4 separate regions of the Homo sapiens genome follow, and regions 1, 3 and 4 are each linked to region 2. Evidence: fine-mapped expression QTL. A gene starts in region 2. Each other region holds a variant in brackets. All regions are shown on one strand. Distances are between the middles of the regions. Region 1 overlaps PARVG (parvin gamma). Region 2 holds the start of PARVG (parvin gamma). Region 3 overlaps PARVG (parvin gamma). Region 4 has its middle 13 kb from the start of LINC01656.

The links. PIP is the estimated chance that this variant, and not a neighbour inherited with it, causes the effect.
Region 1: its variant is the best candidate, but not a certain one, in a credible set for the expression of PARVG in whole blood (TOPMed, PIP 0.86).
Region 3: its variant is the best candidate, but not a certain one, in a credible set for the expression of PARVG in whole blood (INTERVAL, PIP 0.65).
Region 4: its variant is the best candidate, but not a certain one, in a credible set for the expression of PARVG in T cells (TOPMed, PIP 0.56).

What each region holds. Positions count from the first base shown.
Region 1 is chr22:44,207,150-44,213,174 of GRCh38, reverse strand. It overlaps PARVG (parvin gamma), which reads right to left. Exons shown (of 14, transcript NM_022141.7): 14 at 4,706-6,025. Among named protein-coding and RNA genes, the nearest start is that of PARVG, 29 kb to the right of the region's middle. The variant A/G (reference allele first, on the strand shown) is at 2,283.
Region 2 is chr22:44,177,861-44,183,885 of GRCh38, reverse strand. It overlaps PARVG (parvin gamma), which reads right to left and starts at 2,961. Exons shown (of 14, transcript NM_022141.7): 1 at 2,701-2,961; 2 at 1,969-2,144; 3 at 478-568. The coding sequence starts at 556. RefSeq lists enhancers at 1,381-1,470, 784-1,513, 1,514-2,243, 2,244-2,974 and silencers at 2,351-2,480, 3,651-3,700.
Region 3 is chr22:44,200,741-44,206,765 of GRCh38, reverse strand. PARVG (parvin gamma) reads right to left here. Exons shown (of 14, transcript NM_022141.7): 13 at 937-1,009; 14 at 1-449. The coding sequence ends at 340. Among named protein-coding and RNA genes, the nearest start is that of PARVG, 23 kb to the right of the region's middle. RefSeq lists enhancers at 1,627-2,127, 2,128-2,628, 3,889-4,698, 5,510-6,025. The variant C/G (reference allele first, on the strand shown) is at 2,910.
Region 4 is chr22:44,453,094-44,459,118 of GRCh38, reverse strand. No RefSeq gene overlaps it. Among named protein-coding and RNA genes, the nearest start is that of LINC01656, 13 kb to the right of the region's middle. RefSeq lists an enhancer at 3,383-3,532. The variant G/C (reference allele first, on the strand shown) is at 3,233.

The DNA of each region.
Region 1 (6,025 bases), 29 kb before region 2:
CATCACACTCTAACCACTGCACTACCCAGCCCCTTCCACCCTGGGCTACACCTCCTCTGGGATAGAGCCTCGGTCTGAGCACTCTCTTTATACCCAGCTCTGTGCCCTGGGCCTGCACACAGTAGGTGGAGAAGTTCTCTTATGAATGGTGTGTGCACTATGATTTTGTACCTTTGTAAAAACCCACCTAGGTATTAATGCATCACCTTTCTAGGTAATAATAAACCAACCCATATGAAATGCTTGTGGATAAATAAATGAATTCATGCAATTGTTGGCCAGCCCAGGTCCATTGGCTGACTCTTCTTGGAAGAATCATTTCTGGAACATCTTCATCATCTACTTTCTTACCAGCCAGGCCCCTCAGCCCAGTCCCCCATTGACCTAGGGGCCCAGGACACTCCCTGGGCTACACCCCCAGGGGGTGGGGATCCCATGTGTCTCTAGGTCCATGATGCCCCTCTGCTCACCACTGCCCAAGTCTTACAAGGAAAGAAGGCTGGTGGGGCAGGGATGGGGGTTGGGATGGCACTGGCAGCTTTGATCCATTGCCAGAAGATATGGGGGCAGGAACACACTTTTCTCTAGACAAGCTGTTCGCTTACCAGCTGACTTTGGTAAAAAGAAAAAAAAAAATCTTAGTTCCATCTGTTCCCAGAGTGGAGCTGGTGTGAGTCCTGGGGCTTCCTGCAGCTCAGGCGGCCAGACCCAGTTTCAGACTCCAAGACAGCTGCCCTCTGGATTATTTTGGGAAGCAGCTCAACTCCGAGGCACCCCAGCCTTCGAGGCATTTCCCTTCGCTTCGAAGCTGTTTGCACACCCAGCCCAAGCTGCCAGCTCCTTCTCTGGCCCTGGACGCCTTCCTGTTCAGCTTGCTATAATTATCCTGCTTCCAACTTCGGCTGCAACTTCTACTGGAGTCAGATTTCTTGGGATGGAGGAAGAGAGAAAAAGAGCGAAGGCCATGGATAGTGAAATAAGGGGAGGAAAGGGCTCCCTGATCCTGCTTCGTCTCAGACTTCTTTGTGGGAACCACTTCTTCCACCCACCCCCAGGCACCCAGGGCCCCCAGGCATCCACCTTGTCCCACGGTGAACCCTCTTCCCCACTCTCTTCTCAAAGAATGTCCCCACTCCTTTTCTGAATGACAAGTTCCTGGGGCAGGTGGGATGAGGGCATCTTGGGCAGAGGGAACAGCATCAGAAAGACTTGGAAAGATCGCAGAGATGTCAGGGATATAACTGGAAGCAGTGTGGAAAGGTTGAGGCAGGGACGGAGACAGAACACAGTGAGCAGGAGGACCACAAAGCCAGCAGCACCAGAGCACCCAGAGTCCAGACGCTGCCCGGAGGTTGGGGCCTGGGAAGGTTAGAGCAGGATGGTAGTGAGACTGGGTTCCGAGGACAAAAGCACTCTGGCTGCTGGTGCAGAAGTGAAGTCACAAGAAAGAAGTCCCTTTCTTGCGAAAGGGAGGCCAGCTGGAAAGTTCCAGAGTGAAGATTAGGGAACGGGGCAAGCTCTGACTTGGATGTGGTGAGCTTGGGGTGGGCACCCCAGGCACAGCTATGCCCTGGGAAGTTCAAAATATAGATTAGGTCAGAAAGTAGAATAGTGGTTGTTAGGGGCTAGGGGCTAGGGGAGGAAGATGGGGGTAGTTATTGTTTAATGGATACAGAGTTTCAGTTTTGCAAGATGCAAAGAGTTTTGTGGTTGGAGGGTGGTGACAGTTGCACAATAATAGGAATGTACTTAATACTGCTGAATACACTTAAAAATAGTAAGATGGTACATTTTGTGTTATGTGTATTTTACCACACACAAAAAAAAAAAGAAAAGAAAAAAGAAAGAAATGTGGGTCTGGAGCTCAGGGCTAGAGCTGCAGTGGAGATTGGAGAGTGACCCTTAGGGAGGAGGGACAGGAATTTTAGAAGCAGAAGGCATCGCCAGGAAAGCTGTTTGGAGTGGGAAGGACCAATACTGAATCTATTTCTGTAGGTACACAAGCTCACTAACATATAACCAACACTACACAAAATGATAAAGAAAGTCTTTTAGGCAGGAAGAAAATGATACCAAATGGAAGAAGAAACGATGAGCACCAGGAGTAATAAGTATGTGGGTAAATATAAAAGACTTTCTTCTCAATTAAAAAAAAAAAACTCTTTAAAAGGCAATCGATGTGGCTGGACACTGTGACTCATGCCTGTAATCCTAGCATACTGGGAGGCCAAGGCAAGTGGATCACTTGAGGCCAGGAGCTGGAAACCAGCCTGGACAACATA[A/G]GGAGACCTCATCTCTACAAAAAAAAAAAAAAAAAAAATTCTAAAAAAGTTAGCCAAGTGTGGTGGTGCATGCCTGTAGCCCCAGCAACTGAGAAGGCTGAGGTGGGAGGATCAATTGAGCCCGGGAGGTCGAGGCTGCAGTGAGCACTGCAGTCTGGGTGACAGAGTGAGACCCTGTCTCAAAAGAAGACAATTGACATTTTTAAGCAAAAATAATATATTGTGAAATTTATTCTATAGAAATGAGACACATGACAACAATAGGACACAGAAGAGTAAAATGGAAGTAATATTACTTAAAGGTAGACTGTAATAAGTTAAGATGTTATAGTAGATTAAATGGTGACCAAAAGGATTTGTCCACATGCTAATCCCCAGAACCTGTGAATGTTAACTTCTTTGGGAAAAAGGTTTTTGCAGATACAATTAAATTAAGGATCTTGAGATTAGATAATCATGGAAAAAAGTTTTTGCAGATATAATTAAATTAAGGATCTTGAGATTACATAATCGTGGATTATCTAGGTGGGTCCTAAATCTCATGACAAGCGCCCTTATAAGAGAGACACAGAGGAGGGATAGACAGAGAAAGGAGAAAGAAGCAAAGTGACTGTGAAGGTAGATATTAAAGTGATGCATCCACAAGCCCAGAGATGCTGGTAGCCACCAGGAGCTTGAAGAGTCAAGATACAGCTTTCCCTCTAGAACCTCCAGAGGGAACGTGACCCTTCCAACACCTTAATTTCAGACATCTAGCCTCCAGAATTGTGGGAGAATAAATTTCTGCTGTTTTAAGCCAAGAAGTTTGTGGTAATTTGTTACAGCAATGACAGGATATGAATGCAGATGTGTATATAAAGTCTAGAGCAACCCCTAGGAAATGAAAATAACGAAATACAGTTGGTAAGCCAATAATGGAAATAAATTCACATCGCTAAAAAGTCTTCAATCCAAAAGGAATAAGAAAAACATATGAACAAGGCAAACAGCAAGATGGCATTAATAATTCCATTAAATGTAAATGGACTAGAGGTACCTAGAATAGTCAAATTCACAGAGACAGCAAGTAGAATAGTGGTTACCGTGGTCTGAGGGAGGGGAGAAATAGTGGTTACCATGGCCTGAGGGAGGGGAGAATGGAGAGTTAGTATTTCCTGGGTGCAGAGTCTCAGTTTGGGTCGATGAAAAAGTTCTGGAGATGGATGGAGGTGATGGTTGCACAACAGTATGAATGTACTTAATGCCACTGAATTGTACACTTAAAATGGCTAAAACGGTTAATTTTGTGCTATGTATATTTTGCCACAATAAAAAATGTAAGTGGACTAAACCCTCTAATTAAAAGGCAGAGGTTTCCAGATTGTACAAAAAGACACAATTATTTGTGTCTATAAGAAACCTACTTTAAACAGACGCAGTTTAAAAATATAGAAAAACATATACCATGCTAATACTAACAGAAAGTTTGAGTGGCTATATTAATATCAGACAAAGCAGATTTCAGAGTAAGAGATATTACAAGGGATAAATGAGACAAAAGGACATTATAATCTTATATGAGGTATGAAACAAAAATTGATAGAACTGAAAGGGGAAATAGTGAAATGTACAGTTACAGTTGAAGATTTTAACACTTCTGTCTTGGTAATTGACAGAAGTAGTAGAGAGAAAATTAGCAAGGATATAGAAGATCTGAACAACATAATCAACCCACTTGACCTAATTGACATTTATGAAACATTTTGTCCAACAACAGCAGAGCACACATTCTTTTTCAAGTGCATACAGAATATTTACCAAGATAGACCATAATCCAGTACATAAAACAAGTCATAATGCATTTTAAGTGATTTAAATCATACAAAGCATGTTCTCTGACCACAACAAAACCCAATGCCAAAAGATAGCTGGAAAAAAAATCCCAAAATATTTGGAAATTATACACTTCTAAATAACCCATGAGTGAAAGAGGAAGTCACATTTGAAACTAGAAGATATTTTGAACTTCATGAAGGTGAAAACACAACATATTAGTATCTGTGGGATGCAGCTAAAGCTGTGCTTAGAAAAAAAAATCCAGCATTAAATATTTATATAAAAGAAAAATATTCTCAAATCAGTGATCTTAGCTCCCCAATATTTTTAAGATGTCAGTTTTCCCCAGTTTGATCTAAAGAACACAATTCCAGTCAAAATTTCAGCAGGCTTTTTTGCAGAAAATGACAAACTGATTCTAAATTTTATGTAGAAACCAAAAGAATTAAAAAGACCTAGAAAAACCAAAATAATTTTTGAAATGAAGAACAAAATTGGAGGACTTATTTTTGAATGTACTAAGGACATGAGTTGTTGATACAAGAAACAATGGAGATACTCTCAATAGCATTATGCTAAGTGAAAGAAATCAGACACAAAAAGCAACATACCATAGGATACAGTTTATAAGAAATTCTAGACAAGTCTAAATGATGGTGACAGAAAACAGATCAGTGGTCCCCAGGGCCAGGGGCTGGGAGAAGGGAACTGGCTGCAGACAGATGCAGAAACTTGCATGGTGATGGGAATGTCCCATGTCTGGATAACGATGGTGGTGGTTATATGACTGCATGCATTTGTCAAAACTCATCAAATTGTACACTTCAAACTGGGAAGTTATTTTTCAATAAAGCTACAGTAATTAAATAAGTCACTTTTTTTTTAATTGCTGTCAAATAGAACAAGAGTGAGGACGTGGAACAGCCAGGCAGAGCCAGCCTGCAGCGGATGGGGCCCAAGCAAGTGAGGACTCAAAGGCCCCAGGAAGTGGGGCTGGATTTCAGGCTTTTGGGATGAAGCCAGCTGAGAGAGGCTGAGCCTGTGTCCCCAGAAGCTCCAGGAGAGGATTTGAGGTGCTGGAGGGGGCATCGCAATGGAGGGGGCACCTGAGCAGGTGGAAGGAGCTGGGCTCCAGGTACCTGGTGTGGGAGGATGCACGTTTCCCAGAGGCAGCCGGGAAGTAGGGTGGGTATCCATGAAGAGGGGTGCATCTGAGTGCTCACGTGGAACACGCTTATGGGCTTGGGTTTGCCCTGTGAATTGGGAGCTGAGAAGGGCAGGCAGATGGGAGGCTAGGTGAAGGGAAGACCCCTCAAGGCCTTCTCACACCCAGACACCAGCTCCCAGGGCTGACCTGGCACTGCGTCCCTGGCTCCCATCTTGCTCCCCCGAAGGACATCTGCCTAGGCGCCCCCAGTGGGTGTCAATGATGACCTAGCCCCTAACCCCCATCTAAAGCCCCTCCCCAAGGCCTCAGCTGTCAAACTGTGAAAACCCCAGACCCAGAGGCCTCTTCAGGGTCCAGGGAGGAGCAGCAGCCTGGGGCTGTGGTTGCCCTTCTCCCCAGCCTCACCCCTCCCCACAAGTCCCACTCCTCCCCACAAGTCCCACTCCTCCCCACCAGGCCCCAGCCCTCCCCACCAGCCTCACCCCTCCCCGCCAGCCTCACCCGTCCCCACAAACCCTCCCCTCCCCGCCAGCCTCACCCGCCCACTAGCCTCACTCCTCCCCACCAGTCCCACCCCTCCCCGCCAGCCTCACCCCTCCCCGCCAGCCTCACCCCTCCCCATCAGTCCCACCCCTCCCGGCCAGCCCCAGCCCTCCCCACCAATCTCACCCCTCCCCGCCAGCCTCCTCCCCGGTTCCCATCAGCCATCAGCTCTGCCCCACTCTGGATGCCCTGGACTGACTATGTGCAATTCTCCCAC
Region 2 (6,025 bases):
GCATCGCTGCGTGGTCCGTGTGGAACCTCAGTTCTGGGACCACCCTCCTTGGGCTCAGAACCCAGGTCCACCACTTGCTAAGAGTTTCCTGTTACTGTGGCACGTCACCCCTTGTGCCTCAGTTTCCTCATCTGTATAAAGCAGGCACTGATGCCCGCCCTTGAGAATAAATGAGTTGCTATTGGTAAGAGGTGCTGGTGCAGTAGGGGCACTCAGAAGGCTCACAGGATGAGAGCAATCAGTATTCACCATCGTAATCCACACCGTCTCTCATCTGGAGAGAAGAGGTTCTAGCTCTGTAGAAGGTCCCAGGAGGAGGAGTTAGGTCAAGCATAAAGCAGAAGGTGGAGGCAGGGGTGAGCAGAATTGGGCGCTCAGCTGACAGCTGGGAAGGTGCTGCAAGTCCCAGGCATGGCCAGGCTCACTCTTGCCACACAGACCTTCACCCTCCACCCTCAGACCTGCGTGGGCACACACCTTTTGAGAGCTCCTCCTCCGCTGGGGGCTCCACCCCCTTGGGGAGCTGCAGCAGGTCGTACAAGAACTCCGGCTCCATCGCCTCCCAAGCCTGCACAGAGGAGGCAGGAGAGGGCGTCACGGTCTGAGAAGCCCCAAACTCACTGAGCCCCTCATTTTCTCTAGACCTGGAGGCACAGAAGGAGGGTAGAAGCCAGGTTCTGGGGACACGTCAGCATGCCAGCCTAGGCAGGGGGTACGGGCCCTGTGAGAAAGAGCCCTTGAGCCAACCCTTGCGGGGTGACGGGTTAGAAAAAGGCACAGAAGCTGAGGGCGGGCACAGCCAAGCAAAGGCTTGGCGGAGGAAGTGGTCCTTCCTCAGGCAGGTGCAGAGCGGCCGCCCACCGTGCTCCTGCAGCCCCCAGCCCCCTACCCAGGGACCCCCCACCCTATCCCAGACAGGACAAAGTAGGTACAGCTCACTCCTCAGAGCTTGTCAGGTTGAGCTCAAGGGAAACCTCCCCGGTCGGCCTGTGTGGGGCTGGCTGAGGTGGATACGTGGAATGGTGACATCTCCCATCCCATAAACCGGAAGGGCCAGGGTTGACAGAGGCACTGTTCATCTTCCTCCTCCTCATTACAGGCAGAAGGCTGGGCTCACCACATGCCCGGGACAGGGGCAGACCCAGAGGCCAGCCCAGCCCTCCTTCCTGTTCCCCTGGCCCACTTCCTCTCCTGTGAAGGCTTCGCTGGCTCGGCTGGCGCCTTCTGGCCTCCCTCTTCCTCCCTTTTCAGCCCCTGGGTCTTCTCAGTGTTTTCAAACTCAATCAGACATTGAGGTAGGGGAGTCACATGGCAGAAGTTGGTGGCCAGAGCAGGGAGCCCCCTGAGCTGTGGGAGACGGAGGCATTCACTCGACTGGAGCCACCCATGTCACACCAGCAGCCAGCCTGGGGCGGGGGATGCCAGACTCCATCCTGCCCTGTAGCATGGAGGTGGTGGGGACACAACTGACTCCCAGCCCCTTAATATCCAAGCTGAGGGCCATGGCCAGAGAAAACGAAAGAGCCTGGCCTGGGCGTCAGGAAGCCTGGGTCCCAGGCCAGCTCCTCCTCACTCAGGCTGTGTGACGTTGGGCAAACCCCCTGCCCTCTCTGGTCCTGATGCATGGTTACAAGGAGGGCCTGGACTCGATGCTGCCCAAAGGGATCAGCAGCCTGGGCAAGCCCCTTCCTGGCCCCAGGGCCTCAGTTTCTTCACCTGGAGACGGAGGGGTTGGCTGAAGTTCAGAGGCGGCAACTCCTCAGTAGAACAGGGAGGGAGGACGCCGAGCAGCCTCTGAGCAGGGGCAGCCGGAGGGGCCGTGGGGACTCAAGGTCCCACTTTACCGACTCCCTTCCCCGGGTGGCCTGGGCTGGGACTGCACTCTGGGATCCTTCCCAGGTGGTGTCTGGGCCCCTCCCTCCGTGACCCCCAACACTCAAGTATGGTGGCCCCGATGCCAGAACTCACCCAACCGCTTTCCACGCAGGAAAACAAAGGCCTACTGAGTGCAAAGGGTGGTCCCTGGATTCCGAATGGAAGCAAGTTCCGGGTTCTTCTGGGGTCTTCGGGGACCAGGCCGGGAGGCAGGAGCCCCGCTGCTCACTTCCTCCAGGCCCGCTCAGCCGGCAGGAGCTTCCTCCTCTCTGCGGCAGGGCCCGAGGGGGGTGGATGCCGTGAAAGTGAAGCTGCCACAAACCTCCAGAAAGCTCTGCCCGGAGCCCCAGCGCCCGCCGTGCCGCCTGGGCCCCCGGGGTTCTGCAGGCCACTTAAACTCAATGCTTTCATTTCTCCCCCTCTCCCCGCCTTCCCCAAACCATGCCAGTTTCCCCGCAGGCTGTTCACCTCCAAAATGGCAGCTACATAGGCCAGAGCCTGGGGTCGACCCCCGCAACCCACCACCAGCACCCTGTCAGCCTGGCCTCCACCCTCCATCCCGCACCGCCGTCCTCCCACCTCCACACCCCGCCCCGGGCCAGGCCCCTTCCTCTCCCGGGACCACGCAGGAGACTCCTACCTGGACTCTCGGCTGCAGACTTCCCCACGCCCCCTGCCCGCCCCTGAGCTGAGGCTCCCACAAGCCCTCGGAGGAGTGAGTCACTTCCTGACCCCACTCACTCAAACCCACCAACGGCACCCAATAGCTCTTAAAATAAAATCCAGGCTGTGCGTGGTCTGTCTCTCTCAATCGCGGTTACATACCCGTGTCTAGAACAATGCTTGGCACAAAGTGGGCTCAGTGAATAAATATTGGTGGTGGTTGTTGCCAAGGGGATCGGGAAGGCTTTCCAGAGGAGAATGGGGCCTTGACGGCTGCATAGGAGTTTGCAGTGGAAGAAGAAGGGGTGAGAACGTGGCAGGTGGAGAAAACAGCGTATGCAAAGGCATAGCAGGGTTCGAGAAGGAGAGATCTCAGCACAGTAGATAGAGAAACACTTCAGACCCGAGCTGGTCTCTCAAGCTGGAATCTTCACCATCCGGGCTGAAATGGTGAGTTTCCCTAGCAACAGGTGACTGGGAAGCTATCTACCCTTTCTGACAGGTTAGGCAGAAAGTGGCTAAATCAGGTGGGATGCAGGTGTAAGGAGTGTGTGAGAGCAGGAAAGTAGGGTCGTTTACAAGAAGTTAATAAAAAATGACAAAACTTAGTACTGGTATTGTTGCTAATATTTATGGAGTCATTGGTGATGAAACAAACATAATTTTAAGGGCTTTCATTTTACTGGAAACTTCCTTGTGAGGTAGGTACAATCATCACCCCCATATTACAGAGGAAGACACTGAGGCACATGAGTCAGTCCCTGCCATTCTGAAGTGCCCGTGCTAGACTGGGGCTTGTAACAGGTGGGGAGAGAAGCCACCGTGCAGGACCTATTTTGCTGGGGCGTGTGTAGCAGGCTCAGCCCAGCTCTGGACACAGTGGTTCTGGTGGTGGCTTCTGACTCTGGATCACAGCCACATAGATGTAGCAGCAGTCACAGTCCCAGCAGCAAAGAGACGGTATATTCCCATGTGCTAACTGAAGACTGTTTAATAAAGGGACAGCTGGGGCAGGGTTAAAGGAACCCAGAAGAGACAGTGCTACACCCCAGGCTAGCAACATGGGGAGCTGTTACTTCTTCAAAACCTAGAGGGTGAAGGAGGGAGTGGGTGGCAGAGCCCAGGAACAGAATCACTGAAGCTCTAAGAGGGGCCTCGGGATAGGAGCTGTGGCCTTTGGTAGAGGGACACAGCCAGCTCATGGTGAACCAGCAGAAGGGCACAGCTGGAGGAATCAATGACCAAGCCTCACTCTCCTCCCTCCTGCCAGGGCCTCCCCTGCCCACATCCAGCCAGAAGCCAGAGAAAAGAAGTCCCCTGCTGCGGCCCATAGATGTGAGGAGAGAAAATGGTGGGGAGTGGATCTGCAGAGGTGAACCTAAAGCATTCAACCCAGAAAGCATGCTTCTAGGGCCAGCCTGACTCGGCAGCTTCCTTCAGGAGCCAGCTCTGCAGTATTCTTCCAAGAGTCCTTGCTGGAGGCGCTGCCTCCAGCCTTCCAACAGCTTGAGAATCACACAGCTTCCTATGTTAGATTCCTTTCTCCTCCAAACAACTGAAGAGACTCTAATCATCGGCAACTGAATCCCAATTAACTTCGGATTTGTTACCAGAAACAATTGCAGGCAACACGACCTCCAGGATGGGAACTGGGATTGGTTACTTGTTCTGGTTGATTTAAAGGCAGTGGGGACCTAGTAACTGTTAGAGAATGGAGTTCTAATAGATCGTAGCCTGTGATGGCAAAATAATTACCTGTCATCACTCAGAACGAAGTACCTATTAAATTGTGGCTTTGGCAGAGTTGTGGCTTCCATACGCAATACGAGCACAGGTTATCTAAGGACTGTGGGGTGAGCTTGTTATCATCACACCAAAGAGTTTAAAGCAAGAAAAGGACAGTCCCAGGGCTTTACATTCTCAGCTCAAGGTATGTGCAGAATACAGGGAGTTCTCTGATAGCCCTCAAAGCTATCTCTCATCTCTTGGGGCTGCAGGGCTGATGTAAGAATCAGATGCGAAATCTAATCCTGTATGGTGTGGAGTTACAACAGACTAAATCCACAACTCACAAAGCCTCTTGTGTGTAGAGCATTGTTTAGGGGAAGAGAGGGACTCTAAGAATTGGAAGAGTAACATGGAGATAAGTCCAAGCACCCCCAAACCCCAATTAAGAGAAAGGCATGGATAGAAGGGAATTATTCCAGCCTTTTTTTTTTTCAGAGACACGGTGTGAAATATACCTGTGCAAATATGCCAAACACTACTGAACTGTATACTTAAAAATAGTTAAGACAGTACATTTTATGTTACGTGTATTTTTAACCACAACTAAAATTTTTAAAAATTAATAAAAAATAAATAAATTGCAGGGATCACATCACTTTAGGGATATCTCTAAATACTTCAGAATGTTTCTCCTAAAAACATTCTCCTGCATAACACAGTACCATTATGATACCTAAGAAAATTAGCATTGATAGAAGGTTTTCTAATATCTCATCCACATTCAAACTTCACCAAGGCTTCAAAAAATGTCTATTACAGCTGTATTTTTTTTAATCCAAGATCCATTCAGGCATCACACAGCACATGTGATTGCATTTGGTTTTCATGTCTCTTTAGAGCCCTGTAATCTAGAACAATCTTTCACGACACTAACATTTTTTAAACATCCAGGTCAGTTGTCCTGTAGAATCTATCACTTCTGTCATTTCCTGGTCTGCTTCTGTGGACTGATTTTTCTCCCGATTGTGGGTCACAGTTTCCTGCTTCTTTATAATAATGTTTTATTGAATGCTAGACATTAAATTTTTATGTCGTCGCGTGCTGAATTTTGTTGCATTTCTTTAAGAAGTGTTGGAATTTTTCTGGCAGAAATATTCTTTTGATGTCTGTTTTTAATAAGCGTAATCTCTGCAAGCTCTGATCTTTGTCTCCTTAAATCAGTGAGACCTGGCTCTGTCTGGGTCCCCCTCACTACAGCACAGTCCAGGAATTATGTCCAGGCAGAAAGCCAAGACCAGGGTAGGGCTCACCTCACTTGCCACCCTTTTCTTGGGGATCACAGATCTGACTCGCCTCTTAACATTTTACTTTTATATAGTTTCAAACTCACAGAAAAGCTGCAGGAAAGTACAAAGAGTTCCTATGTGTATTAGTCCATTTCCATGCTGCTAAAACAGACATACCCAAGACTGGGTAATTTATAAAGAAAGACAGTTTAATGGACTCACAGTTCCACCATGGCTGGGAAGGCCTCACAGTCATGGTGGAAGGTGAAGGGGGAGCAAAGGCATGTCCAATGTCTGAAGTAACTGTTTCCTGTGTTTTGTGGAGGCTTCTAGTTATTCCTGATGGAAAGGTAACTCCAAAAGTGAAAATTCTTTCCTCATAAATATTGATCGATTACAAAGAAGAGTTACATTTTTTAGTGTACAAATTTGATAAACACTATATTAACTAAGTAATATATATTTTTTAAAAA
Region 3 (6,025 bases), 23 kb before region 2:
GTCACTAGCCTGGGCCCAGAGATGAGAGACTGATGTGACACACACTCACCCCATGGGAGGGAGGCTGCAGGTTTAAGGGCCCTCCTCAGGACCCTGTCAAGTTCCCAGAATCCCTCCCAGAAATACTTTTATTAAAATAAACTGAGCAAGGCCAGGCGGCTCAAAATGATCCACACAAGGGGGTTCAAAGATAATCCAACGATGGAGACAGGAGACAGGGTGGGAGGGAAGCGGGTCACGAATGCACAGGAAACAGCGGGACTGTGGGAGGACACCCTGCAGCCTCGGGCCCTCCAGCTGGGCTGACAGGCAGGCTCTGGGCTTTGGAGGCAGTGAGGGTCAATTCGGGGCTCCATGGGGCGTCCTGTCCCTGTGTGCCTTCTGCGTGTGCTTGCAGAACAGACCATAGAGCACCCTCAGTGTGCTCTTGGCATCCTTGTTCACGATATCTGCGGGCCAAAGGAGGGCAGGGCAGCCAGTCAGGCCTGGGTGGCAGTGACCGACTGTCCCGATGTGGTCAAGGTTTCCTGGCATTCAGGATTTCAGTGCTAATCCCAGGAGAATCCCTGGAAGCCAGGACAGCTGGTCACTCCAGGCCTGGGTCCCGCGCCTGCTGCGTGACTGCCTCCTCCTCCTGGCCAGTCCTCCTCTGAATGCTCCTGTGGTGCCCCCAACACAGCAACTCCTCAAGGTCTGGCTTCTCTGGACAACCTGTCCCCAGAGACCTTGGTCTCCCCCTCCCCAGAACCTCTTCCCCTGGGGCTGCAGTGCCCCCTCCCAAGAAACCTTGGCAAGCGCCCATTCTCCACCCCTGCCAGGCAAGAGGACTCTGCCAATGCGTGCTCATCCCCCAATGCCCTGCACCCTGTTCTGTGGCTCTCGCACAAGGCTGCCACCCAGGGCTGGCCACCGTGTGGGCATCTGCCTTGCACTCACCTTCAGGGCTGACAGGGCAGCTGAGCAGGCCCTCGTCCTTCAGCAGCTCCAGCGCCAGGGTGACGTTGTGCAGCTATGATGACAAGGCCCTATCAGATGTGGGCACAAGCAGCAGCCCCAGGCCAGGCCTTGGGTCCCAAGTGCCAAGCCCTTCCTGTTGTCTGTGATGTCCATCATGAGCCTAAACTCCCATCCAAGGTGGGCATCCCTGACCACGACCACAATCCGTGGTCATCCAGCATCTCCCTACAGCTCACTCTGTCACACAAGCAATCCATGTCTCATTCCTCAGCCACTCACAGGCCCCACTCTGAGCAGGTGCTATACCACACTGGGCACACGCTTGCGTCCAGGGGCCACTGCCCGTGAAAAAGGCAATCGCCAAGGAGGATACCCAATAGGGATCAGGGAAGGCTTCCTGGTGGAGGTGAAGCCTGGTGGTGAGTCCCGCCAGGCAGGGAGAACTACCCAGGGAAAGGAGCAAGGGCCTGGGGTGGCAGAGCACCTTTGAGAACAGCTGTTTCCCAGGGCAAAGCACAGTGAGGAAATCAAGGCTCAGAGGAGCCAAGGGGCTCACTGGAGCTCACGAGACAGAAAGCGCTCAAACCAGGTCTGTCCGCTCCAATGCTCATGCAAAGCAGGCTAGAGACTGGAGCGGTCCCCACCCAGGTGGCTGTCCTTTCCGCCACCCCTTGCCTGGGGTGCAGTCTCAGAGATGGCTCCCTTTAGGGTGGAGAGCGCCCGGGCATCAGTCAAGTCCCCCAGTGATTCAGAGCTCAGCTTAGTCCCTGCCCAGGGCCTCCCCTTGCTCCCCTGCAAAGTGGGCTCACCACAGTTCCCCTGTGCCTTGCTACAGGATATGGTGAGAGCCCAGGAGCCTGCCGGCCCTCCCACAGTAGGTCCCCTCCCTTTCCATTCTAGCTTCTCCCTTGGGCCTCGTCTACAAGCAGAGTAGGTCCCAGCCCTTTGCCTTAGGGCAGCAGCCTGGTGTGGGTGAAGAGGGATGAACTCCTGGTTCACTGTGACCTCAAACAGGTCCTCCCTTCAATGTCTTAGCCACCCGTAGATCCACTAGACGGGGTGGACATCCCAGCCCGGGGGTCAGCTGTGCTGGTCCCGTTCCCTCCCTATCTGCCTGGCCACACCAGCCCCACCAGGACAGGGCAGTTCCCATGGCAACCCGCCAGGGGCCAAGAGGCCAGGTTGGCCGAGCGGTGGATGAGCAAGGCCAGGCAAGACTCATCCAGAAACGCCAGCCTGGCCCAGGCCACCTCCAGCCACCTGCTGGATGGCCCGAGCAAGAGGACTCTTGGGATCTAGCTTGGATGTCTGTGTACTGCCACCCCCATCCCTGCCACTAAGTGTCTGACCTCGGACAAGTCACACATCCTGGCTGGGCCTCAGGTGCCTCATCTGTGTCACGGGGATGATACACCTGTCTGCCTTCCTCTCCAAGGCTGCCATGTGCGTCCAATGTGATGACGGACACAGAATTGAAGCCACAAAGCAAGATTTGAAGGTGAGGATGATGAAGGCATAGGAGCTGGAAGTGGGTGAGCAGAGTCCTTCTCCACGTGGGGACATGAAGATGGAGGGCGGGTCCCAGATGGAAAGGAGTGTATGGGCAGGGTGCCCAGCAGCAGCAGCAGGGCCGCTCCTCTGTAGTCAGCCAACAAGAAGAAACAGGCTAGGCACGGTGGCTCATTCCTGTAATCCCAGCACTTTGAGAGGCCAAAGTGGGCAGATCACCTGAGGTCAGGAGTTCGAGACCAGCCTGGCCAACATGGTGAAACCCTGTCTCTACTAAAAATACAAAAATTAGCTGGGTGTGGTGGCACGTGCCTGTAATCCCAGCTACTTGGGAGGCTGAGGCAGGAGAATTGCTTGAACCCAGGAGGCGGAGGTTGCAGTGAGCCAAGATTGCACCACTGCACTCCATCCTGGGTGACAAGAGCGAAACAAAGGCTATCACA[C/G]GGCACCAATGTTGCAGCATGCTGCAGGGGCCAATGCGGGGTGAAACTCTGAGACTGTCCAGACCAAGATGGATGGGAAGCTCCGAGTGGACAGACCAGAGCATCACCGGAAGTTCCCATCACTGTGTCCCCAGTTCTTCCTCCTAGACTGGAATATTCTGGGAAACTAGGGTTGCAATTGTTGCTATTGTTCGCATTCTCATCACGAATATTATTTGCAGTTACATGGAGAGTAAATGTCGGAGTGAGAACAAGACCCTGAGGAACCTGAGGTTCCAGACTCCGCACTGTGCTCTCCTGCCTCAAAGCTCCGCCTTTGATACATTCAGCGAGCCAGCATCTCCCAAACTGTGATCTAAGATGGACAGGAAAGGGGATATCTGTGGCCAAACGTTTTTAGAAATTGTTGGATTAAATAAAATACTATGGAAGTCCTTCACTGCAGGACTTATTAGAGCCTTGAATGTGTTGGTGGGCCGCATGAACCTTCAAGACTAGACATGTTTCCCCAAGTTATTTATTCATAGAACCCATTTGTCACAGAACACCTCCTGGGACCAATGTTTTGGAAACACTTCGTTCATTCACTTATTTAAAAAAATACTTGTCATCTACTATGTGCTAGCCATACAACCAGTGCTCAAAACAGACCAGACCTCCTGCCCTCATAGAGCTTATGCTTTGGGAATTGCTATCGACACTGAAAATTATGACATCTGCTTCTGTTTGTCACACTCTTCCTCAATGACACTCAATCTGAACAAAAGATCATCCCCCAGTAAGAGCTGACCCTGGCTCCAGAGCTATCTCATGATGCTCTGTCCAGAGATTTTTCTTCCGCGTGTGGCTTGAGATGAAGATAAAACTACCACCTTCCACGGAGCTGAGAGAAGGTTACAACCCGGGAGGATACGTGCAAATCCTCCTGGGGAAAGTAATTTAACGTGGAAGGACGCCAAGGATTCCTGGCTCCGGGGATTTTATTTCTGGGAGCGAATGATCCTCTCTCCCTCCATCCTTAACTTCCGTGCCCACAATGAATAACTATCTCACATAAACACCATCAGCAAAGAGGGTCTGATAATGAGAAATCCAATTTCAAGAGGCTACTCTGCCAAGATAACAATTCCGCAGAGGCCCACCTTCAGCAAGGGCTGGTGTTCCCGCCCTCCTCAGCTGACGACCTCTTCAGCATTTTGATTACACATTCCTGCAGCAGAGATTGCCCACAATATGCTGTAAAAATTCATTCTTGGAGTCTGAGCTAAGAGGCTGCTGCTTTTCCCCCACATCTAATCTGACTCATATTCAGAAGTAAGTTCTAAAATCAGTGGATTCAGCAAAGCGGCTGCACACAGCAACATGGAAGTCTGCACGTTTGTTCCCGTCTTGTAACTGGGGCTTGGATGGTGCAACAGATTGAGCAGAGGCCCTGCAGCCCAGGGGCACCCCAGAGTGGCTCTGAGCTGGGTTCCGAGCCCCAGGCCCTCAGCCCGCAGGTGGTCCTGCCTGCCCCCTTCCTCCGCCTTCTCTCCTCACCGCTCACATTTCAGTGCCTTGCCTTCCCGAGGCAGGCTCTGACCCCAGTCTCAGCCTTGGCTTCAACCCCACTGAGCCCTGCCACCCCTCCATCTCCCAGAGACTCACATTGGCTCCACAGGAGGGAAACAGGGAGGACCCTAACTCACTGTGTGCTCTGGGCCAGACTTCTGTGCCTCTCTCAACTGTTTCCTCTGTGGAAGTGGGGATGGGAAGAGTTCCTAACTCCAAGACCCAACATGAGGATTTGCTAGCACATTCGTCCACACTGCCCGTGGGAGATCCCACCATCGGCCCAATTCTGCACCCACACACTTTGCAGGGCTGTCCCATGTCACTGTCAAGGCCACAGGGCCTGCTTCGATGGAAGTGGCAGCCTGCCCATTCTGAGCCAGGGCCTCATGCCTTCTGCCTGGTCTCTCATGTGTCTGCCATTGCCAGGAGGAAAGCGTGCCCGGGCCAGCTGCTGGTCCCAGAAGGAACATGGCAGGCTGTGGCACAGAGCCGAGCCACCCAGCCACGACAGCCTGATCCCTATCCAGTCCTCGGAGGAGTGACAAAGCCTAGCTGAGCCTCTAGCAGCTAAACTCAGCCGACCTGCCGGTCTGTGGGAAGAAATGAGCATGGTTTTCAGCCCCTAGGTTTTCGGGTGGTTTGTTAAGCAGCACGTTTGTGGCAATGGCTGGCTGATGCAGCTCCTCCGAATGGAAGAACCTAGGAAGCAGCAGGCACCGTGCCTGCCACAACCACCAGGACCGTAGACACTGACTGCCCCGGCCTCGTTGCTCTGACCCAACATCCCAGCTCTTGGGAACCAAGTCCAGAGCACCTGGCCTCCAGGGAAGGTGGAGGCCACACCCACTCAAGATGCATCCCCGTGGGGGCGAGGGACATGGCAGGCTGCGGGCGGCAGGCTGTGCTGGTGTGAGGCTGCCATTGAGCAGCTGGGTGGTACTGGGTAAGCCTCTCGGGCCCTGGGCTCCCCTCTGTAAAATGGAGATGCAGCCCTGCCCCGCTCTCACAGGGGCAAGGAGGGAGGGTGAGTGGGGAGAGGGCCAGGAGAGGCAAAGTGCAGGGAGCTAACCCCAAGGGAGTGTGGACTGTGGTACAGGGCCCCACAGAGCGCCGAGGGACTGCAGAGGAGCTGAGAAGGTGGGCAGAGCTGGCCGCCCGCCCAGGGAAGCAGGTGGGAAGCAAAGCCAGGGTAGGCTGGGCTGAGAGCACAGCCTGCGTGGATGTGAGGGAATGGGGGAGGACCAGGCCCTGGAGAGCTGGAAGGGGGCCAGAGGTCATGTGGCTGTGGCTGTGGCTGTGGCTGGGAGTCGGCAGGAAGGGAGGAGGGGACGTGGTCGGGGAGGCAGATGGGGCTTGGCAGTTGGGTGCTCCACTTGAAGCAGGGGAGAGGCACAAGGGTGGGTGTCCAGGAAGGTTAAGGGGAGCGGCCTAGAAGAAGGGCCTAGGTGGAGGGGGAGTCTGGTAGGGGTCCAGGGGGGACCTCACCTGCTACTGGGCCCCAGATAGGCCAAGAGGCCTGATCCAGGGCCAAGGACGCCCTGAGCATGTGAAAGGGATGGAAG
Region 4 (6,025 bases), 280 kb before region 2:
ACATGCCACATGGGGCACCTGGAAGACTGGCTTCGTGGGTGCAGAGGTAATGCCAGCTTCTGAGTTGTGGGCAAAAGCCAGAATGAGAGTGAGGTGCCTCTTGGGCTCGTGTGAAGGGAAATTTCTACAAGGTCACTGGGGAAGACTTCATAGAGGAGGTGGTGTCTGAACTGGGCCTGGAAGGATATGTAGGATGAAGATGGGCAGATGCAGGCATGGGGTCCACCAGCCCTCATCCCTTGGGAATAGAGCACCTGGCTGACGGTCCCTGGAGCTCATGCAGAAGCTGGAGCCTTTGGGGGCTTGGTAGGAAGACGTGAGCATGTGGGGCACACTGAACATGGAGAAGAGAAAATGCAGCAGCTTTGCTCAGAGAGGCTCTTTCCACCAGGGCCCGCGGGCCGATCGCCCAGGGCTTGGCAGAGCTGTGGCAGCACTCCTACGCCAGCTCAGGTGCAGGAGCAGGGCTGGGGGTGGAACCAGGAGAGTGAGGTCAAGGCTAGAGGGACGGTGCCTGGCCGTCCTCACACCTCAGCTGCCAGAGGTGGCCTGGGGACCCACTCCAAAGCCCCTGGGTGTAGCCCGCCTGGAGCAGAGCCCTGCAGCTGCCCTGGGCCCACATGGCTGGTTGCTAAGAGACCAGAGCCTGGAGGCCGACAGCCAAATTTCAGGCTGTGACTGAGTAAGGACCCTGGCTTTTGCCTGTGGCTCATGGAGTCTTTAGAAACTGAATTCTCAGACAGCCACCTGAGGTTGAGGGGAGCAGGGCCTAGAGAAATCCCACAGCTGGGAGATAGGGTAGCTCGAGCTCAGCCCTCCCATCCTGCCTTGGAGCCAGTCCAGATGGGCCCAGAGGAGGTGGCACAGGGAGATGCTCCCAGTGGGCACACTAGCTCCCCAGGGCTCCCTGAGCTGCAGGAGGGATGTCTCCGATGTCACCCGGACCGTGCTTATCCTCCTCCCACCATGCTTAACCTCCCTGTGTGCCAACACATGCACACACGTGCATGCACACACCCCACGCAGACACCAGACATACACACAGCACACTCGTCACTCACACGCCACACACCCATGCACACACACACGCCACACCACATACTACACGTGGTTGCAGTCACACCAGATATAGATGCATGTTCCAAGATATCACTTTTTCTCTCCTCCAGGCTTCCTTCTGCCTTTTTCTAGAAAATCTCTAAGGTCCTGCATTAAATGTCAGATCACGGGAAAGGCTGTCCCTGAACTCGTTCAGCCGGGGGACTCTGTGATCCCTTACAGAGCACGGCCTATGGTGCAATTGTTGGTTGAGGGACTGAATGCACCTTACACTGTAAACTCCTTCGGGTCAGGAGCTGAAGCTTCTTTGTGGATTATAGCCAGTACGTAACTCAAGACAGGCTTTCACCAAATGCTTATTAAATTAAGAGGCCAGGCATGGTGGCTCACGCCTGTAATCCTAGCACTTTGAGAGGCTGAGATGGGAGGATCACCTGAGGTCAGGATTTCAAGACCAGCCTGGCCAACATGGTAAAACCCCGTCTCTACTAAAAATACAAAAACTAGCCAGGCGTGGTGGCGGGCGCCTGTAATCCCAGCTACTCAGGAGGCTGAGGCAGGAGAATCACTTGAACGCAGGAGGCAGGGGTTGCAGTGAGCCGAGATTGTGGCACTTCACTCCACCCTGGGCGACAGAGCGAGACTCTGTCTCAAAAAAAAAAAAAAAAAAAAAAAAAAAGGAATGAAGAGTTGAATGAATGAGTGACAAAAAAACAGAACCAAGATTTGTTAAGTGCTGGGCCAGAGCCCTTTCTTCTGTCTCTCTCTTTTGAAAGGGTAAGGATATTTTACTCATTCTGCTTACGTTTAATGCATTTTGTTATTTTAGCTCAAACATAATTGCCTTTTCAGCATTTTTCTTCAAAATGATGATTTAGGGTCATCCAAATCTCAGTGCACATAGTGATAATATTTCTATATGATTTCCATTCAAAGTGAAGAATTTAAAATTTGGGGATGCTTTCAATAAGATCTAGTGAACAAAAGGAGCTTTTGCCCAAGATGATATCTTTTAAAATGTGCTCTATAAAGTTGCTTGGGGTCTAGGAGAACTAGATGATGGGGCTTTTCTAGGAACATCTGCGGACAGGCTTCCAGGCCCTTCCCAGAGTCTCTGCCCATCCAGGCCTTCTCCCCGGGTCCCTGAGGCCTCCACCACCTCCCCTCCAGCTTGCATCCCCCTCTACAACTATCTGAAGGGTCCCGACCAACATCTGCACCTCCCCTACCAGGCTTTACTCCCAGCCTTCTTTTTGAACAGGAAGGCATCTCGAAACTCAGTGTCCCAGGAATAAACTGTTCGTATGTACCCTCTGAGCCTCTGGAAAGAGGCTCATCTGAATCTTCAGGAGCAGGTTGAACAGCATCAGGAAGCAACAGATGTTTCAGCCCTGTCTAGGGCTCCATCATTCTAGGTGCAGAACATCTAGGCCCTCTCCAGCCAGGGTTTTTTCCTGGACTGAGAGCTGATTATTTTATTTTATTTTATTATTTTATTTTTTTGAGGCAGAGTCTCACTCTGTTGCCCAGTCTGGAGTGCAATGGTGCGATCTCGGCTCACTGCAGCCTCTGCCTCCCTGGTTCAAGTGATACTCCTGCCTCAGCCTCCTGAGTAGCTGGGATTACAGGCACCTGCCACCACGCCTGGCTAATTTTTTTGTATTTTTAGTAGAGACGGGGTTTCACCATGTTGGTCAGGCTGGTCTCGAACTCCTGACTTCAGGTGATCTGCCCATCTTGGTCTCCCAAAGTGCTGGGATTACAGGCATGAGCCACTGTGCCTGGACTGCTTATTTCTAAACCTAAATTTAAGCTTTCATTCTCTCCCTCCATTTCACTCTCTGCCCTGAGTGTGGGTCATGGTCGTCTTAAGATTAAAAACCAATGATCGAGTGGATGAGTCAAAAATGCTGGACTGATGTCTTGATTTGACTTCCCACTCTGCCACCAGTGGTAAGTCAGGTTTCTCATCTGAGCCTCTGTTTGCTCACCCTGTAAAGTGGGAAAATCCTATGACCCTATTTTTGTAAAGATAAGTCAAGAAAATGAACTGCTATTAGTGGAGGGCTTCATGACCATGAGAACTACAGAACCTGAAGAAAAGCATCCAAATAGTCCGGGTATTCATGCACGGTAAACCCCTGGAGGCACGTTCCTCTGTGACCGTGCATGC[G/C]TGTGCACACATACGAAGGTGACTGGCTCTCCCGCGACTCACAGAGGTGACTCCGGCAGAAACACAACGCCAGCACAGCAGGTCCTGGGGTGTGATGGTACCTCCTCCTGGGTGTCAAGTGGAGACCAGAAGTGCAGAGGACCAACCTCCTAAAGGCAGAAGAAAATGGCAAGTGGCCAATCGTTATATGTTGAGGCTACCATTGCATGTTCTGGGTTTACCACCTCTGTTTACCAGCCCGGTAGCCCTGGGCCTATCACTTAATATTCTTGTGCCACAGTTTCTTATCTTCAAAATCTGGATAATAATGGTAGCCACCTGCTCAGGATGTTTTCAGTTGCAAAGAACAGGAAACCACAAGAACCCAAATGGGCTTTTAAAGTAAATGTCAAGATGACATTCGTTTGCTAAACCGAAAGGCTCAGGTGAAGTGTGACTCAGCCGTTCAATGATGTAACAGAATATCTACTTTTGTTTTTTGCTTTCCCTCTACTTTCCTTTCTATGACATCAGATTCATCCTAAAGCTGGCTCCCTTTAGAGTCCAAAGAGGTCTGCCAGTGGCTCCCAGGCCTGCATGCCTCCTCATTAACATCCTTTGAGAGAGACAGAGTTTCGTTGTCTCATGCAAATATCACTACAGGTCCAAGTCATTCCTCAGAGGCTGGTATTACTCTTATCGGACCAATCTCAGTCCACCCCCAAATTGGAACCAATTACTAGGCCAGGGGATGGAATACACTGACTGGTTCAGATCAGATCACATGCTCCAGCCCTGGGACTGAGAGTAGAGCCAGTTTACTTGGACATCGAAACGGACATAGGGGACGGTGGGAAGGGAGAATAATGCTAGGAGGTGACGATTATTTATTATAGTCCTCACAGCCCTTGGCTACCCAAGGTTCATACAGATCCTTCCTCTTCCCATGAACATTCAAAGTTGCCTACATCCATATAAACACAAAGAAGACAACCAAAATCTCTTCCAGCCTTCCAGGGACTGCCTTCATCTCCCAGTTCAAGATCTCATTCCAGGAATATTTACAGTCCTTCCATCAAATCTGGATGGAAGTTATCATAGTACAGGGAAAGAATAATAAAGAGAAATTAGCTCACAGGACCGAGATGTCCAGCAGGAGAGAGGCTCCTGGTGTGGTTTGGTTTAGAGGTTCTCAATGGCATTGGTGCTCCAGATGTTCCTCTGTAATTCTCTCATATCAATCCTTCACCAAGCAGGGGCTTTTCCCCAGTGGGGTTTCCTTATAGCTGCCAACAGCTCCCAGAGTTACTTGGGCCCTTGTCCCTGTACCATGGTAGCAAGAAGGCAGTCAAGTTTTGAGTCATTGCAAATCGGCCAGCATAGACTTTTGAGGTTGCAAGCAACAGAAATGCAACCCTAGCTTAAAAGAAAAGGGAAGTTATTTGTGGTCCGTGTGCCTGGGATGGGGAGGACACTGGATGTCCCATAGCAAGGGTGACAGGGCTCAGGCCACTTCAGCAAGGTTCTAAGGGGCAGCCCCATTGCTGTCGTGGATGGGCAGCACCCTCTGCCTTCCCCTGCCCTCCCTGAGCTGTGGCTCCTCAGTAAGGAGTTGGACACACAAACCCTCAGGTCCCGGAATCGAGGGGACCCTGAAGGGCATCCACACACCCGAGTATCATGGTACAGCAACACACGTGCCCCCATGAAGGGACAGTCTAGACTCCCCAGCCTCCCATCCAAGGCCAGCAGAAGCGCTTTTGCCAACATGCAGCCGGCTCCGCATGTTACCTTCTCAACCCAATTAAAGGTGGCTCTAGGGAGCGAGCTCGGAGCTGATAAATGTGCAGAAAGCAAACTGGACGCAACCGGAAGGCAAAATCTTTCCCATCACATAGACCAACTGTGCTCTGGTGGTCACATGGGATCTTTCCCATCACATGGACCCAATTAGCCGAGCCTGTGCTGTGGTGGTCACATGGGGAGCTCACAGGCTGTGGGAATCCGGAGCTTGCAGTGCAGTGATGCTGTGGTCCCCAGGCATGGCCACTTGCCCTGACATAGCCTGAGTCTCCTTCACAGAGGTTTGGGTTGTGATTTTAATATAGAGGAATTGTCCTGGGCCCACATGATAATACCTGCCCTATTAAAATGCTTTTTGTCCCTGACACCTGGATGAGGCCCGAGGACAGGTGTGTGGGCAGGAAAAGTTCAGAAAGGAGCTGAGATTGAGCGAGGCCCTACTGCATACCAGGACTGCCATTCCCTGCCTCACCGCCATCGCCACAGTGCGGCCCTGTTATCCCCACATTCGTTTTCCTACGTGTGTGTTGGGGGAGGGATTTGGACTCTAAACGCCCCCTCCCCTAAATCTGGAATTGGAAATTGCAGACATGGGGTGGGAAGGTGGGGGCCCAATGAATAACTGATGGATGAATCAATGCCATTTTGAAACCTGCATTTCAACTTGACAATATATTTGCATCGATCAGGTTGATTTCAACGATGCTGCAGGAACAAACTGTCAAAGTCCCAGTGGCTTCAGTCAAACATGTGTTTCTGCCCAAGCAAAGTCCACGACAGGTGCAGGTGATTCCCCAGAGCCACAGTCTCCCAGGGATGGCTCAGCTGCCCCAGCTGACTGGAGCACCAACATCCCGGAGCAGCAAGTCGGGAGTGCGGGGCCACCCTGTCCGTTACAGTGGAAAGGGGTAGGCAGAGTGGTCCTTAATGCTTCTCCCTGGAGGTGACTCATCACTTCTGCAGACAGAGCAGGTCATAGGGTCACCCCTGATTTCAAAGGAGTGTGCACCT